2 linked regions of the Homo sapiens genome follow. The protein of the gene in region 1 purifies or fractionates together with the protein of each later gene. This does not show direct contact. Each region holds a gene or a part of one and is shown in the gene's direction. Other genes may lie near its edges. The genes, in order: CDKL4 and POTEI.

Region 1 (3,827 bases):
GATCCAGTTCAGGATCACACGTCGCATTTTGTTTTTCCATCTCTCTAGTCTTCAATCTGGAACAGTGCTTTGATCTTTTCTTTCATGACGTTGACATTCTTTATTAAGAGTACAGGCCGGTTATTCGTAGAATGCCCTTCAGTTTGGCCATGTCTATTGTTAACTCATAATTAGATTTAGATTTTGCATTTTTGCCAAGAATACCACAGAGGAGATGTGCCCTTCTCACTTGCACATTTGTCTTTTCTAGAAATTTCCTGTAATGGAATTATAAAATATGTAGGATTTTGTGTCTGTCTTCTCTCACTTAGCATTATGTTTTGGGGCATGTGGTTCTTTTTTCTTTTTTTTTTTTTTTTTTAATGTTCATCTACATTATAGCAAGTTCATTCCTTTTTGTTGCTGAATAGTATTTCGTTGCATGGATAATCCACATTTTGTTTACACATTCATCAGTTGATGAACATTTGGATTGTTTTCCATATAGGGACCTCTTCTGAATAATGGTGCTGTGAACATTTGCTTACATGTCATTGTTAGATCTATTTTAAAATTTTTCCTGGATAGATACTGAGGAGTGAAATTGCTGTTTATGGTTAATTTTTTTTTTTTTTTTTTGAGACGAAGTCTCGCTCTTGTCCCCTAGTCTGGAGTGCAATGGCACAATCTCGGCTCACTGCAACCTCTGCCTCCTGGGTTCAAGCAATTCTCCTGCCTCCCGAGTACCTGGGATTACAGGTGCATACCACCACACCCAGCTGATTTATTTTATTTTATTTTATTTTATTTTAAGTAGAGACGGGGTGTCACCATGTTGGCCAGGCTGGTCTCGAACTCCTGACCTCAGGTGATTCGCCTGTCTCGGCCTCCCAAAGTGCTGGGATTACAGGCGTGAGCCACCACGCCTGGCGGTTAATTTTTAAGTTAAATTTGTGTTTAACTTTTTTTTGAGACAGAGTCTCACTCTGTCACCCAGGCTGGAGTGCAGTGGCACAATCTCAGCTCACTGCAACCTCCGCCTCCCAGGTTCAAGCAATTCTCCTGCCTCAGCCTCCCAAGTAGCTGGGATTACAAGTGTGCGCCACCATGCCTGGCTACTTTTTGTATTTTTAGTAGAGACAGGGTTTCACCATGTTGGCCAGGCTGGTCTTGAACTCCTGAGCTCAAGTGATCCACCTGCCTCAGCCTCCCAAAGTGTTGGGATTACAGGCGTGAGCCACCATGCCTGGCCCTATGTTTAACTTTTAAGACATTGCCAAACTGTTTTCCAATGGAGCTGTGCTGCTTTACATCCTCACCAGTGATTTGTGTGAGTTCCAGTTTCCATCTTATCAACACTTGATATTGTCAGTCTTTGGATTTTAGTCATTCTAATGTGTATGTAATGCTATCTTATTGCAATTTTAATTAACACTTCCCTAATGGCTAACAGCATCCTTTCATGTGCTTAGTAGACATTTGTGTATCTTTGGTAAAATGTCTATTCACATCTTTTGTCCATTTTTAAATTGGGTTGTTTAACCTCCTATTGAGTTGTAAGCATGCTCTCTATGTATTCTGGATACAAATATTTTATCAGATATAAGATTTGCTAATATTTTTCTTTAGTCTGTGGCTTAGCTTTTCATTTTCTTAATGGGGAAATTTTTTGAGGAGCAAAAGATTTTAATGTTGATAAATTCCATTTTATCTATTTTTTCTTTTATGAATCATGCTTATGGTGTCATATCTAAGAAATCTGCATAACTGAAAGTCACAAAGATTTTTCTCCTCTTTTTTTTTTTCTAGAAGTTATACAGTTTTAATGCTTACATTTTGGTCTTTGTCCATTTTGAGTTAATTTTGCTATATTGTGTGAGGTGTCTGTCTACTGTGTGTGTTTGTTGTTTGTTTTGCATATGGATATCCAATGGTCCTAGTATCATTTGTTGAAAAGACTATTCTTTCCTTGTCGAATTGCTGCAGCAACTTTGTCAAAAGTCAGTTGGGCCAGGCGCAGTGGCTCACTCTTGTAATCCCAACACTTTTGGAGGCCACAGCAGGCAGATCACTTGAGGTCAGGAGTTCAAGATCAGCCTGGCCAACATGGTGAAACCCCATCTTTACTGAAAATACAAAAATTAGCTGGGCATGGTGGCACATGCCTGTAATCCCAGCTACTTGGGAGACTGAGGCAGGAGAATCACTTGAACCCAGGAGACGGAGGTTGCAGTGAGCCAAGATTACACCACTGCACTCCAGCCTGGGTGACAGAGTGAGACTCTATCTTAAACAATAAAATAAAAATAAAATAAAATTTTAAAAGTCAATTGACCATAAATAGAAGGGTTTATTTCTTGACTCATTATTATGTTTCATTGATATATGTCTTTATGCTGGTACCACAGTCTTGATTTACCATAACTTTATAGTAAAATTTTAAGTCAAATTTAAGATAAATTTTTAATATAAATATTCTAAATTTGTTCTTTTTCAAAGTTGATTTGGCTATTCTGGGTCGTATGCATTTCCGTATAAATCTTAGTTTCAATTTCTGTCCAAATAAAGCCTGTTGGAATTTGTATAAGGAATTAATTTTGTTTAATTTTGTTCATTTTGGCTTTTTAGAGACAGGGTCTTGCTGCATTGCCTAGGCTAGAGTGCAGTGGCATAATCATAACTCAATGTAGCCTCAAACTCCTGGGCTCAGGTGATCCTCCCGCCTCAACATCCCAAGCAGCTGAGACCACAGGCGAGGGCCACTAGACCCTGGCTAATTATTTTTTATTTTTTTAGAGATAGGGTCTCACTATGTTGACCGGGCTTGTCTCAAACTTTTCGGCTCAAGTAATCCTTCTGCCTCAGCCTCCCAAAGAGCTGGGATTACAGGCATGTGCCACCACTCCTGGCCAGGAATTAGTTTATAGATGAATTTATGAAAAGCTGATATCTTGCTGGGTTTTCAAATCCATGAACATGGCATTTTTCTCCTTTTATTTAGATCTTTAATTTCTTTCAATGGTATTTTGTAATTTTCAGTATGCAGGTCTTGCACTTCAGTTGTTAAATGTATTCCTGAGTATTTTATTCATTTTTACATTAATTTGGATGGAATTGTTTTCTTAACTTTATTTTCAAATTGTTTGTTGCCATTATATAAAAAGATGATTTATTTTGCATATTGATCTTGTATCCTACTTCACTGCAAACTTGGTGATTATTTCTAGTAGACTTTTTATAGATTCATTACGATTTTCTGTAGATAGTATCATGTCATTTCTGAATAATGACAGTTTTACTTTTTATTTTCTTTTTTAAAAAAATATTCATATATATTGAGCACTTCATTTAATAACTATTTATTTTATAGAGATGGGGTTCTTGCTGTGTTACTCAGGCTGCTCTCAAAATTTTGGCCTCAAGCAATCCTCCCACCTTGGCCTCCCAAACTATTGGGGTTAGAGGTGTGAGCCACTGTGCCTGACCTTACTTTTCGTTTTCAATGTATATGCCTTTAATTTCTTTTTCTTGCCTTATTGCACTGACAAGAACTTTCAATACAATGATAAATAAAAATAGTGAAAGCAAACATCTTTTTTCCAGTCTTAGGGGTAACACATTCAATCTTTCATCATTAAGCATGATGTTAACTGTAGATTTTTCACAGATGCCCTTGAGGAAGTCCCCTTGTATTCATCATGAATGAGTGTTGGCTTTTGTCAGATTCCTTTTTTGTGTGTACTAAGGTGATCATGTGATGTTTTTCTTTTATTCTATTAATATGGTATTTTACATTATTGATTTTCAGTATTAAATCCACTTTGCATTCCTGAGATAAGTCCCACAGA
Region 2 (3,014 bases), about 91 Mb from region 1:
AAAAGAGAACAGATTCTTTCTCAACAAGTCTAACGTAGACAGTAAAATCAACAGGCTAAAAATTAAGCTCCATGAAACAAGATAAAACTCTGAGAGAAAAGACGGGGCAGGCCGCCATCTTTCCCGTTCAGGCAACTTAGTCATTCCAGCCTGCGGGCTTTGGAGAGTACAAACCGACGAGGGACAGAAGAGATCCCACAGCACAGCATAGCTGCTTTACCAAATCATGGCCAGACTGCTTCTGTAAGCAGGCCCCTGATCCTGTTCCATCTCACTGGACAGGACCTCCCAACTGGGGCCTCCAGCTACCCCCACCAGCATTCCTTGGCCAATGGAAATGTGAAATGTTCCTGGGACAGAGCTCCCGGAGAGGGGCAGGCCCCCACCTTTGCTCTTTCGGTGACTAGCCATTCTGGCCTGCGGGCTTTGGAGAGCCCAAGCTGACAAGGGGTGGAAGAGGTACCTCAGCACAGCACAGCCACGCTACCAAAACGTGGCCAGACTCTTGTTTACGTCAGTCCCTGACCACATTTCTAGTCAGTGGGTGAAGTCTTTCAACCAGGGTCTCTGGCTACCTTGACTGCTGTTCTCTGGCCGACAGAGGTCTCAGGCCTCCCTGAGTCAGAGCTCCCAGGGGGAGGACCAGATTGTCATCTTTGCTGTTGGGGCGACCCAGGCATTTCAGCCTTAGGGCTTCAGAGTGTCTGAGGCGGACCAGGGGCTGAAGTGAACCCCCAGCACAGCACAGCTGCTCTATAAAAACGTGGCCAGACTTTTCTTTTTGAAGCAAGTCCCTGTTCTTGTTCGTCCTGACTAGGTAAGACTTCTCAACTTGCCTCCAGCCACATCTTATAGGTGTGTTCAGATTGGCAACAGGTTCGTACCTCAGTGGTACAGAGCTTCCAGAGGAAGGGGCAGACTATCATCTTCCCTGGAAAATACAAGGCAATTAGGGACTGGAGGGGACCCCCAGCATACCACAGCAGCCCTACAGAAAAGTGGCCAGGCTCTCTACTTGATGGGCAGATCCTCCTGGCCTGGGTCTCTAGCCAGCCCACCACTGGAGCTATCAAGCCAGTAGCAACTCTGCAGTTCCTGGGACAGAGCTTCCAGGAGCAAATGAAATCCTTTCTGCCACTGCCTCTGCAGTGGAACTGCCCTTGCTGCCCTCAGAAGATGCAAGGGAGCAAAGACCCTAAGTGCCCTATCAACACCTCCAATAAGCTGCAGTTGACCCAAAGAACAAGCCAGTCCATCTCCCACGGGTACCACACACCCTCCACTACTCATCACCAGACAGGGAACCCTGGCTTGGGCCCACAGCACAGACCCTCCATCCTGGGCTGATTACACTAAGTGATTGCTAACTCACATGTCTCTGGGATGGAGCACCCAGGAAACAAGCAAAGTGGTGGAGCAGCAAGTCAGGTGATGTGGAGCCCAGAGGTCAGGGATGGCTGTCTCTCTAGGGTCCACTTGCCCTTGTGAGACACTTTATCCCAGCACTTTAGGAATACTGAGGTCATACCAGCCACATCTTATATGCAAGATTGCCCAGCAGAGATCAGGTCCGAGAGTTCCCTTTTTAAAAAAAGGAGACTTGCTTAATAAAAGAAGTCTAGCCACGTTTGTGTAGAGCGGCTGTGCTGTGCTGGGGGTTCACTTTTGAGAGAGTTCTCCTCTGAGACCTGATCTCTGGAGGCTGGGCAATCTTGCACTTGAGATGGGGCTGGTCTGATCTCAGCACTCCTTAGTCTGCTCGCCTCTCCCATGGCCCCAGCCTGGCCACACCTGCTTACGGGGCACTCTTAGATGCCCACACCATAGCTTCCGTGCTAGTGGACTGTACCATATCAGTGGAGAGCTGCAGCAAGGTGGCCCCTAGAGCCACGCACCAGCCTGCACATTGCCTCTCCATACGGCAGCCCTTTATTTGGAAACTTCCTAAATCACTTTGCTGTGTGTGTTTACACGGGTGGGTTTTGCTTTACTTGCCCTGAGAGCACACAGGAGTGCAGCACACACCCCAACCCACATCAACTGCCATTAAAGAAAAGAAATTTCAGCCCAGAATTTCATGTCCAGCAAAATTAAGCATCATAAGTGAAGGAGAAATAAGATCCTTTTCAGACAAGCAAGTGCTGAGGGAATTTGGTATCACCAGATCTACCTTACGAGAGCTCCTGAAGGAAGCACTAAATATGGAAAGAAAAGATCATCACCTGCTACTACAAAAACACACTGAAGTACACAGTCCAATGATGCTAAAAAGCAAGCACATATGTAAGTCTGCAAAATAACCAGCTGACAGCATGACGACAGGATAAAATCCACACATACCATTACTAACCTTAAATGTAAATGGGCTAAATGCTCCCATTGAAAGACACGGGGCAAGCTGGGTAAAGAACCAAGACCCACTGGAGTATGCCGTCTTCAAGCAACCCATCTCACGTGCAGTGCCATACATAGGCTCAAAATAAAGGAATGGAGAAAAATATTTCAAGCAAATGGAAAACAGAAAAAAGGTGTTGCACTCCCAGTTTCTGACAAAACAGACTCTACCAATAAAGATAAAAAAAGAGAAGGACATTACAAAGGTGGTCCTGACCTTTGATAAATCTCATTATTGCTTGATACCAACCTGGGCTATTTGTATTGCCCAAACCAATAGGATAATTTGCTGAGGTTGTGGAGCTTCTCCCCTTCACAGAGTCCCTGATCTCCGAAAATTTGGTTGAGATGTAAGGTTGATTTTGCTGTACAACTCCTTTTTTGAAGTTTTACTCATTTCCAACAAGGAAGGCAAGTTTTCCTGCTTCCATTGACAAAGGAGAGCAGGCACCTCCTTTCCTGAGTTTCAGCTTGCTTCTGACAGGGAAGGTGAGTGTAAGTTTTTCCAGCTTCTAAGATGGCAGAGAATGATCACCCAGTCTGAGCCTTATTTCCAGGTAAGTAGCTGAATTAGAGTTTTGTCTTAAAATTTTTCCTTAATGACTAAAATTTAAGATTAC

The links.
Region 2: the proteins of CDKL4 (region 1) and POTEI purify together in Homo sapiens (affinity purification with mass spectrometry; 3 studies listed by BioGRID and IntAct, with this or other methods). This does not show direct contact.

The regions. Positions count from the first base shown.
Region 1 is NC_000002.12:39,237,212-39,241,038, reverse strand, and holds part of CDKL4 (cyclin-dependent kinase-like 4), read left to right. Parts: intron 1-3,827.
Region 2 is NC_000002.12:130,458,948-130,461,961, reverse strand, and holds the end of POTEI (POTE ankyrin domain family member I), read left to right. Parts: 3' UTR 1-2,507; downstream 2,508-3,014.